3 linked regions of the Homo sapiens genome follow. The protein of the gene in region 3 interacts with the protein of the main gene of each other region in a pairwise test. Each region holds a gene or a part of one and is shown on either strand. Other genes may lie near its edges. The genes, in order: DDX11, EXOSC7 and PRRC2B.

Region 1 (3,646 bases), on a different chromosome or scaffold from region 3:
GGCGGGGATGAAACTGTCCCAGGTCTGTGTGGAGACCACCTTCGGGGAGCGGGAGGCTGGCTTGAGGCCACGCAGCTGGGGTGGGGGCTTCCGTCTGCCTGTGCTCCATCGGAGGATGGCTCCACCCAGCCCCTGCACCAGTGCGCTCCTCGATTCCCTAAAGAGGCTTCCAGAGAAAACAGCAGCACATATCAATAAAAAACTCAGCAGAAACCAACAGCACACTTTTATTTAAGGACCTATAGCTGTGCAGGATGCAAACATCTGGGCATCAGTGACTTTCCTCCTGCCCCCGTTTGTCCCTGATGGTGGCAGAAGATCCCAGCTGACCACAGCCCCTTTCTCTGGGGTCAGAGGGAGAAGACAGGCGCAGTCAGCAGGGGCAGCTGTTGCAGGTGGGAGGGATATTTTCCCACAGGAACAAAGGTCTCCGTGATGACACGGGGTCTCTATAGTCATGTTGAGAGCCTAACGGCCCTTGGCATAATTGCTGGTGTTGGGGTAGAAGGTGTCTTGGAGTTTGCTCAAGTGGTTGAGAGGGAGGGAGGTGCCATAGACTTGGAGGAACTGGCACGAAGCCAAGGATACAAATCCAGGCAGGGCTGTGGGACAGGATAGGGAGCAGGGCCTTCTACTGAAGGAGTGACTCAGGAAGGAGGAGGGGAAGGTGACAAGCCCCTGGGCAGGAGCCCTGTGGCCATGGATCATTTTAAATTGAGACCAGAGAGTGAGCAGTCCAGGGCAGCTATAACCTTGGCTAGAAAGGGCAGAGGCAGATGGGCCTGCTCCATCTCGCCTCTTAAGAAGGTGGGCAGGACGGAGATGCCACAGTGGATGCCACAGCTGCCACAGCCTCCTGCGGAGACCAGGAAGGAAGCCTGGCTCTCAGCCATGCAGGATGGAAAGAAAGATTCTATTCCAGGAGGGGAGCTGCCCTGGAACGCCCCAAGGACAGCCAGGACCCACTGTTCATTCAGGATTCCCCCATTTTCTCCTACGGGAGCTAACGCCTGTGCCTGGGTCCTGGCAGCACTCTGGACTCCACACTCTCCTCCTGGGTTTCACCTTTGTAACAGGATCCCCGCAGACCACGCCCACGACAAACACTGTCTCCAGCGGGCAGGACAAAGGAAGGGCACGGCGCCAGGCAGTGGTGTGGTTGCCCATCAGGAAGAGGCCGACTTCTCCCGGTGAAACTGGGCAGACAGAAGGCAGTGAGAAATGTGATCTCGGGGTGGGGAGGCTCTCAGAAAGAAAAAGGTAGGACTGACCTTCTGCACAGCAGCAATGGCGGGGCCAAAGGTAGCTTTGACCTCCACACGGGCTCGGATCCAGGCCGGCAGCTTGGCCAGGACAGGGGGCCGGGCATATCGCTGGTCCAGGAGCACTACGCTGGCAAAATCCTTCTGGTGCCTGATGGCCCTGCCTGCATAGGAACAGAGGCTGGGGCTCCGAGCAACACCTGCCTCCCCCCTACAGCACATTCCCACGGCGACCCCCTCCCCTTCCTCAGACTTATATAGGAAACAGGGCAGGCAACCCCTCTTTCCTGTTCTCCCTTTCTCCAGCCCCCATCTGTCCACCCAGCTGGAGGCAGCCAGGCTCACCTATGGACTGGTTGACGGCCTTCATGCACAGGTTCTCCACCAGAGCCTTCCCTGGGGGTGCCTGGCCGGGGGCTCTGGGCTGGGAGTGAAGGGGAAGACCCATCAGGACTGTTCCCTGCCTGCAGCTCCCCCTGGGAAAAGACCCTGCCAGGCTTTGGAGCCAGACCAGGAGGCTTCGTGGCCAATGCCAGCAGCAGGGGTCCAGGTGACATCACAGGGAAGATCAAGAGGGTGTGGAGGGGCATCCAAGCTTCCGGAGGGGGCAGGAGACGCCAGCGCAGCGGGGAAGGCCTGGCTGTATCAGCCCTGGGGGTGATGCCACTCCCACCCACTGCCTACTCTCCTGTCACCCTCTGTGACACTGGGGTCACTCACGAGGGTTTGATCCAAGTAGGCCATCTTCTCCTGCAGCTCTGCAGACCTGATGTTGGGGAAGGGCATGCCCACCATCACCACACACCTGGGCGGGGGAGACAAGAGCCCAGCAGGTGGACGTCAGGACCTCCCGGGTCATCACCCACGTCACCAGCTGCTCCGTTCTACCCCTTCCCTCAGCCTCTCCGACTGTGATCAAAACTCAGCCTCTCTCCACTCTGTACCTACCACCTGGAGAGGGCTTGTTCGGCTGAGAGATCCCGTCTAGGCCAATTGACTGGGTCCTGATACAGCAATGGGTAGCCTAAAATCCAACTGCTCTCCCAGGACCAAACCCAGAGCTGCTGAGCCCCTCCCTCCAGCTGGCTGGTCTGAGCAGTCGCAGCCCAGCTGTGGGCTCTAATGGCAGCAGAGAGCAGGCAGGGGCCCAGCTGCTGGGAGTGAGGGCCGGCCATGTATCACGGCCCAGGAGACGAGCAGAACCACTACTTACCGGCCTAGGTTGTCAGAGAAGTTGATCCCTTCACTCATCTTTCCTCCAACCACAGAGAGGAGCAGGGCCCCTGTCACCTGGCCTCTCTCCTGGCCACAGGCCTGTAGGAGAAACCCAGACGCTGAGTTGCTGAGCCAAAACTTGGATGACACCCACAACGTTTCCAGCTGCCACCCCCACACGATCTCAGACCCAAGCCCAGCATGACGCCCGCACCTGGATGCACCTGGAATATGCCAGCAGCACCTGCTCCACCTGGTGTGCGCTCTTAGGTTCCTGGAATATCTGAGAAAGACAGAGGACATTTCCCAGAGACAGGTTCAGGGTGCCAGGTCTCGAGTCTGCTCGTGGCCTTGTGTTTTCTGGCCAGGGGACTGGAGAACCTCACAGCCAGGGACTTTGGGGGAAATCCTCTGTAGTCAGGGACTGGGAGCGGTGGGGATGAGGAGCCAGAAGCCTGTCCTGACCCGATGAGCACGAGAGCTCCCAGGAGGACTCAGTGGCACTGTCCTCACAAGTGGGAAGGCTGCCGACAGGCCACTCACCTTCTTCCTGGCAGCCAGACGGCCCAGCAGGCCACCCTTCTCCCAGTGGGCATGGACCTGGCGCAGGTACTCGTAGGAGGGGAAGAAACAGACCACCCCTCCAGGAACCACACCGCACAGGTTACAGAGAATGCGACCCACCTCGTCCATCTAAGGAAGGAAAGGAGGGAGGGAGGGAGCCCCCATGGAGCAACCCCTCAGCCACCCACAAACCGCGTCTTCACCTTGAGACTCAAAACTGAGGAGAGACCCTCGGCAGGACTACAGCCAAGGAAGAGGACTTGGCTCCCCTGGGTGGGAACCACGGGGTGGTAGGTGCCACCTCCCACCAAACACACCCAGCCGCTGCTGCTGACTGCGCCTTTCTGACACATGTCACAGCACTAGCGTCCCTAGGGGGCCTCCCTATTGCCCTGGCACTGAGTCCTCCCTTCTTCTGTCCAGGGTCCTGATGGGCACCACAACGACAATCAGGGGCTGCACACCCCAGGCACACCACAGGAGATGCCCCCAAGCCCCACATCCCTACCCCCGGCAGGGGCAGATATAACCAAAGGGCAAGAGAGCCAAAGGGAACTAGCAGCTTTCTCCTGTGTGAGGCGTCCTCAGAGGATGCCTGGAGGTTT
Region 2 (3,646 bases), on a different chromosome or scaffold from region 3:
ACCTTTGGTGGGGTGATTGGTCACAAGCCTGTCTTTTGATGGGTTCTTTCACAAATAATCACTAACCTTCTTCCTCATAGCACCCCTTCTGTTGGGCTCTGGGGATAAAAGGATGAACAAAACTACAGAGTCCCAGCCTTTAGGAGTTCACAGTTCAACTGCAGAGGAGATAGACTCTAAACAAAAACAGAACTACATGACTTTTCTTTCTATGTGTGACTTCTCACCTTTCTTATTTGGGGCAGCCCAGTCGGCTTTATTCCATAACCTCAGGCCAAGGCCTCTCTAAAATGAGGACAGAAGGATATGCCACCTTCCAGTTAAATGTGCTCTAATTTTCCCTGCTAGATGAGCATACGTAAGTGCACTCAACACTTTCGCTCATGGGCAGAAGCTTGTCTGAGAGACTTTAGTCTTCATTATAAGTAATGTAAAACATGTAGTATTTCATGTCTGAGCATCAGATATACATTGATCATTACATACGAGAAGTAATTACACTAGTAAATGTGAACCTAGTAGCAGCCGCAACATCAGTAGCCACCGTTTTCTCCTTGTTTGGAGGCCAGGCATATGTTAGCAAAGATTAGAGTAACACTTGGAGTACAATTGGGAGCTATCTGGGGCAAAATAAAGGTGATCAGTCCCACCTTCAGGGCAGCCCCAACTGCCTGAAGTGCCTGTGAGAGGAGCCCACCCACAAGCCATGGCCTCTGAGTGTTGGTACCACAGCCCTGCCAACTGTGACCTTGTGTGCATGGGCCACGTAAGCACAGCTATGACAAGGCAGTGCCTGTAATTAGGGTGAAGGACTGTGTCAGTGAGTTGCAGTCACTGCATGGCTAGCCAGGAGAGAAGCCACATGTTATCTTTATTTTATAAACACACAGTCAGCATTTCTTAGAAATCAGTGTCCTTGACCACAGAATAGATTTAGGGAAAGAAAAAAAAAAATCGGTGTCCTGGCCGGGCGTGGTGGCTCATGCCTATACCCCAGCACTTTGGGAGGCTGAGGTAGGCGGATCACTTTTGGTCAGGAGTTCAAGACCAGCCTGGCCAACATGGTGAAACCCTAAAATACAAAAATTAGCTGGGGGTGGTGGCGCACACGTGTAATCCCAGCTATTCGGGAGGCTGAGGTGGGAGAATTACTTGAACCTGGGAGGCAGAGGTTGCAGTTAGCCAAGATTGCACCACTGCACTCCAGCCTGAGTGACAGAGCGAGACTCTGTCTCAAAAAAAAAAAAGCAGTGTCCTTTAACTGGGGTAATACCTAAAGTAATAAGTGATGCTTGGTTTTTTTTCCTTTTTCAATTCCTGTCTCCCTTAGCTTCTGGAATGTGGTGGAAATTTGTTTGATGCCATTTCCATTGCTGTAAAGGCTGCTCTCTTCAATACAAGGTAAGTCTTCCTAGAAACAGCTCTGCGAACCTGTGGAGAACCAGAGCAGACACTTGTAATGGAACACTGAGGAAATTTCTATTGTAGCTCATATGTGAAGATAACAGGGGGTTTTAACATTGAAAATGGTGACATCTAACGTTAAACTCCAGAAAAGATAGATTTCGTGAATTAAAACTACATATATACGTATATTCTGTATTTATTTTTTGTATTGTTATTTTTATAAATAGACACCTACCATTTAGAAAAATATTAGAAAACTACAGAGAAGCCAAGAAGAGTAGACACCACCTACAGGCCAACTATCCAAATACTATTACTGGGTGAACTCTATGGGGGCAAGGATTTTGCCTGTTTTGTACTTGCCTATATTCCTAGCACCATGAACAGTACCTGACACATAGTAAGTGCTTGCATATTGCTTGATTGTACACATGTGTGTTCTAAAAGCAGGGTAACAGGCTTCCCTTTGGTTTAAGAAGAGGAAATGGCTATTCCACATGGTTCAGCTTTCCAAACAGGTTGTGTAGAAGGGACAAGTTGCTATGCTTTTTTGGAGTTGACATTTATTCTGACTGATTGACCTTTCCCCCTTTTATGCTCCAAGTACTTTGAGGAAAATTTGCAGCATTTATGAGTAAATACGTGGGATAGGGTGTTCATCCTATGAGAGAGCCTACATTAAGGTAACAGAGGATCCTATTAAAAAACGAGGATTAGAAACTTCTAGGGATATAACCTAAGGACATAATTGAATAAATGAGCAAAGATGTTTATTCTAGGATGTTCATCACATCCTAGAATAAACATTACACTGCTTTGTAATGGTAAGAAACTGGAAACAACCTGAGTTTCACAATGGAGGGGATTGAAGTCCACACAGCAGCCTATTTAAAGGCATGTTAATATGGAAAATAGTTCACTAAATGCAGTCCCCTCATCCTGGTTTTTGTTTGTTGGTTTGTTGTATTTTACTTTGGTAGTTCTTATATGTAATGTGTCTGGAAATATGTACCCCCAAGTAATCACTGTAATTATTTTTCAGTGCTCATATTTTGGCCAACATAACATTTACCTGTTTTTTAGAGCTTTTCTATGATGAGTTTAGACTCCCTGTGTAATTTAGAGCAGACAAAAATTGCAGGCTGGAATATTTGCTGAGAATGAAAGCTGTAGAGTCCCCCACCCCTAGCTGTGCCACTAGGCTCCTTGTTGAGACTATTTGAAATGTGAGCCTGGCACTCTTGGCCACCGTGGGAGCTTGCGTGCCAGATCCCACAGCAGTAGCTGGTGCTCGGGCCCTGTTGGGGAAGGAAAGGAAGCTGTCATCTGATTTATCTTGAGCCTCAGAAATGACTCCCCATCTGCCAGCTGGTTCCTATAGGCACCCAGGCAAAAAGAGAGATTGGGAACCAGACAAGGCTGTTTAGCTGTGGGGGAGTTGCTGGCCAAACTGTATACCAGAAAGGTTAACCCAGCTGCTCAGGTAGGGGAGGACACCTGTCATGGGCACAGCCATAGTCTCATCCTCAGACCAAGAACAGCCCTGCAGGCAGCAAGGAATGGGGACTCTAAGGCATCAAGTCCCCCTGGTATGTGGAGAGACTATTGGCATATTCAGGGTCCTTTAGAAGGGTAAAGGCCACCTGAGGGTATTCTTTAGCCCTTCTGCCCAGGCTTGTTGTAGCCAAAGGGTTGGGAAATTGGGAGATACTGTGCGTGCGTGCGTGCGTGCGTGCGTGTGTGTGTGTATGTGTGTGTGTAAATGGTTGACAACTTGTTCAAATAGGATATTACTTAGTAGAACTTCCTCTGATGGGAAGGCTCCAAATGGGGAAGACCCTTACAGAACTCCTTGGCCCTTGTCAACATTCTCTGGCTGAAGCTCCCCTGATCTGATCTAGATGTTGCCTTGTGTATGGATGGCCAGCAGGGCTCAATCATGGGGGGTTTTGTTAGAGGAACTGGGAAAAGTACTAATGCTGTTTCCATTACAGTAGCTGGATGGACCACCTCTTCCTTCCTGGCTCCTCCAACCCAGCCTGGAGTGAATTGACTTTATAGGTTAAATGTGTTTTTCAGTACCCAGCTGAAGAAACAGAATGTTGCCAGCACCCCAGAAGCATCCCACACCTTCTGTACCCCCATGCAATTACACTCACTGATGATAACCAGCATCTTAAAAGAATAGATTACTTTTGTACTTGATATAAATGGTATCATATACTATGTTCTGTTTTGT
Region 3 (3,646 bases):
ATGGAACACAAACAGGTGCAGAGATGGCTTTGCCCAAACCCATCCATGGCTCTCCTGAACACACTCAAGGCTCGTCCAAATGTATCTATGACTTGCCCAAACCCATCCATGGCTTTTCCCAAAAGCACCTACAGCTCCGTGTCTATGAATTGTCCAAATGCATCTTCAGTATTGGCCACATGTACCCAAGACCACCCAGATGAAACTGATGGCAGCCAGGACCATGACTGATCTCCTGGAGATGGCTGCCTCCATCAGTTTCCTCCACACAAGTCTGCAGAGAGCCACCCCCATATCCACACTCCATAGTGCCCTCCAGACAGGGAGAGCCATGTCCCGGCAGTATAAATATGGACTGGCAGCCCGCACACAAACATCTGGTTCAGAAGGCACCTGCCACCTGGCCTGGAGATGCCCTGGGCCAGACAGGGAAGGCTGTGCCCCTCAGCAAACTGAAAAAGAGGGCTCTGGTAACAGAGGCTGGAAATGCAACAGTGCCCCCGCTTCCTGCAGATCCCCGGTGTCCATCTGCATGTGACAGAGACCGCAGACTCTCGAGTAAAGAACCTCGTAGAGCCCAGCACTTCCAAAACATTGTTTTCATTCAACACCTATGAATATTGTACAGCACTCACATTCCTTGGAATCCTCTGGGAAACGCTGCCCAAATGATACTCGTTCATTCAGCATATGCACTAGCACCCACCCCTGCAGGTGGTGAGGACAGAGCAGTGAACCAGATGTCACTGCGACAGCCTCAGCTGCAGCCCCGAGTGGCCACAACAGATGCAACTGCCAGCTCCTGAGCCCATGGTAGAGCGCCAGCAGGTCTTCTGGATCACAACAGTTAGATTGCAGGCGGCAGGGACCCTTGGATGGTGAGATGGGGCCTCCTGAGGAGGGCTCTCCTACTCAATCTGTGCCCCTTACCCCTGGCCACAGAAAAGGCAGCCTGAGTCTGGGCTCGCACCTGGCACAGAGGAGACAATGGAACCAAAGAGAGCCAAATAAACCAGCCCTTAGGAACTGTATGATCCCCACTGGAAGGTCACAAAACCTGGGCAGGAACATTTAAGCACCTTTTAAGGACATGGAGCTGCTAGCAACTGAGTCACGTGCCAGCCCAGGTCAGCCTGAAATACATGTGCTGTCTCCTTCACCCAGGGCCTGCCAGCCCCAAGCAGTGAGTGGAGCCAAAAGTGGAAGTGTGGACTTACATTACTGGCCAAGGCATCCTGAAGTTTAACAACTGGACTCCCAGTAGGACCAGAGGCAGAACCAGGTGGCAAGCTGAAATCGGAGTCCTGAAAAAATAAAAAAGGCCACACAGCCCACTGAGATCCTCCTGGCCCTACATTCCCCAGAGGCATACATTAACGTGATGCAGTTTCCCCGACTCAAAAACTCCACTGAGCAGCATTCACTGGAGCCACATATGAGCGAGATGGCCAGATTTTCCCCACGGCACAGGAGACAGGACGCCAGCCTCACTTCTTTCTCCCTGTCCCTTGGGTGGCCTGACAGAAACAGGGAAGATCACTGGCCTGTCTGGTGTCAGTGAAGCAATCTTTAAAGCAACTCAACAGAGCACTGGCCATGTGCAGGACTCCACACCAACACTCTAGCCGCTGGAAGACTGCTTGGCTCCCATCCTTCTATTCCTTCTAGGAGACAATCCCATCTGAGCCCCCAGCCTCTCCAAGTACCAAAATAAAAAGTAAAAAAAGCAAGCAAGAAAACAAATCAAAGCCTCACTTTTGGACTGACTCCAAATTCAATGGGTGGCACAGGCAGCACGGAGTCCACGTGAATCTCCACCCCGTTAACAGGCGGGACGACAGCCCCTTGCAGCCGCTCGGCCCCCTCCGAGCCCTTTCTGTTTTTCAGAGAACGCTCGTTGCCGATGGGTCCTGGTCTGTGCTCCTTGCTCTGTCCAGAGCCTTGTTCTGAATCCTTGATAAAAAAGCAGAGAGGTGGAGACACACAGACTGGAATGACCACACTCTCTAGCTTCTACTGTCCCAGGAATTGAGGAAGATGATGAGACGATGGCCCCTTCCACCCAGGCCCTGGCCACTGTGACTGGAACGTCCAGGTTACCTTCTGCTCAGATGGCTTTGGAGCCTGCTCCTTGTGGCTGTCGGCCTTGGGTTCCGCCAGGCCGGGCCCGCTCATCTCCTCTGGCTTCAGAGTCCCATATGGGGAGCTGCGCTGCGAGGAGGTCGCAGACGACTCCCGAGACTCGGCACTCAAGTCAACGCCACTATCTCCCTGGCTGCTCTTAAAACCCTGCTGTGCAGAGCACAAAATGGGTTATAGCCTCAAACTCCCAACTCGATTATCCAGAGAGTAAAACTGCATGTGGCACAGAGACTTTTCTACCCCAGCTGCCTGTCCCTTGCCAAGTCTGGTCCTGATCTTGATCCTGCCCTGCTGAGGATGCCTGACAACTTACGTGTGGCCAAACACACCAACCCCGATAGAGCTCGTGACCACAGGATCTTCTATGGGCCCCAGACCGAGGCTGCCAAACCCATCTCACTTGTGACCCAAACCAGACTACGTGGCTGCTGACACCAGTTCAGAGGAGGCCCTGAATCCCTCTTCCCACCCAGCGTTGGGTCCTCCCTTGTTACCCCTTTTCTCTTTCTCCTGCTCATGCACGCCCCATGCACAGGCCAGAAATCAAGATGGAAAACCACTGATGAGCTTGGCCCCATGGAAACAACCTAATTCCAAGCTCAGCTGCTGTGGCAGGGGCTTGGGTGGGCCACAGCAAGCTGGCCGTGTGGATGGTGAGCACACACTCACACACTCATCCCAGGGGCAGCATGTGGGCAGCGGCCACACTCACCTCCGCAGAGCCAGTCTCGGTGCTGCTGAAGGCAGTGACAGCTTTCCTCCAGGAGTCGTTGGCTGGGGCCTGCACAGGGAGAGCTGCCAGGGGAGGAAGACAGAGTCAGGGCATCAAAGAGCAACCCGTCTAGAGAGTTTATGAGCTCTTAAAGAACAAGCACAGGCACAGCTTGCAGAAATCCAACTCCCCTGCCTCCCCTGCACCCGCCACCCCAGCCCCCTACCCGTGACACCCAGTGAACGGCTCTGACGTGGAAGAGCTGGTCTGACAGCCTTACCCAACTTTCCACATCCTCACCCAACGTGTTTCTCAACATCTCATGGATTACAGGAGAGAGTGAGCAGGGCAGAGCCCTCACTCCTGCCAATCTGGATTCTCTGTCGTTATTTCCGCTATGCTCATGCTTCTTTTCACTTATACTATTTCTAAAAGTTGGTAGCTTCTCTTTTTTTACATTAAAAAATATATCTTTCTTTTTTTTTTTTTTTTTTTTTGGAGACGGAGTCTTGCTCTGTCGCCCAGGCTGGAGTGCAGTGGCGCGATCTCCACTCACTGCCAAGCTCTGCCTCCCGGGTTCACGCCATTCTCCTGCCTCAGCCTCCCGAATAGCTGGGACTATAGGTGCCCGCCACCACGCCCGGCTAATTTTTTGTTGTTGTTGTATTTTTAGGAGCGACGGGGTTTCACCATGTTAGCCAGGATGGTCTCGATCTCCTGACCTGGTGATCTGCCTGCCTCAGCCTCCCAAAGTGGTGGGATTACAGACGTGAGCCACCAGGCCTGGCCTTC

What was found.
Region 1: the proteins of PRRC2B (region 3) and DDX11 interact in a two-hybrid assay, tested with the Homo sapiens proteins (one large-scale study listed by BioGRID).
Region 2: the proteins of PRRC2B (region 3) and EXOSC7 interact in a two-hybrid assay, tested with the Homo sapiens proteins (one large-scale study listed by BioGRID).

The regions. Positions count from the first base shown.
Region 1 is NC_000012.12:31,101,357-31,105,002, reverse strand, and holds the end of DDX11 (ATP-dependent DNA helicase DDX11), read right to left. Parts: intron 3,171-3,646; coding exon 3,021-3,170; intron 2,761-3,020; coding exon 2,692-2,760; intron 2,577-2,691; coding exon 2,476-2,576; intron 2,068-2,475; coding exon 1,983-2,067; intron 1,687-1,982; coding exon 1,608-1,686; intron 1,427-1,607; coding exon 1,272-1,426; coding exon of another isoform or gene 1,197-1,271; coding exon 1,167-1,196; coding exon of another isoform or gene 970-1,166; 3' UTR 204-969; downstream 1-203. UniProt on the Homo sapiens protein: DNA-dependent ATPase and ATP-dependent DNA helicase that participates in various functions in genomic stability, including DNA replication, DNA repair and heterochromatin organization as well as in ribosomal RNA synthesis.
Region 2 is NC_000003.12:45,000,208-45,003,853, forward strand, and holds part of EXOSC7 (exosome complex component RRP42), read left to right. Parts: intron 1-1,330; coding exon 1,331-1,401; intron 1,402-3,646. UniProt on the Homo sapiens protein: Non-catalytic component of the RNA exosome complex which has 3'->5' exoribonuclease activity and participates in a multitude of cellular RNA processing and degradation events.
Region 3 is NC_000009.12:131,481,017-131,484,662, reverse strand, and holds part of PRRC2B (protein PRRC2B), read right to left. Parts: intron 2,938-3,646; coding exon 2,855-2,937; intron 2,293-2,854; coding exon 2,101-2,292; intron 1,954-2,100; coding exon 1,756-1,953; intron 1,305-1,755; coding exon 1,218-1,304; intron 1-1,217.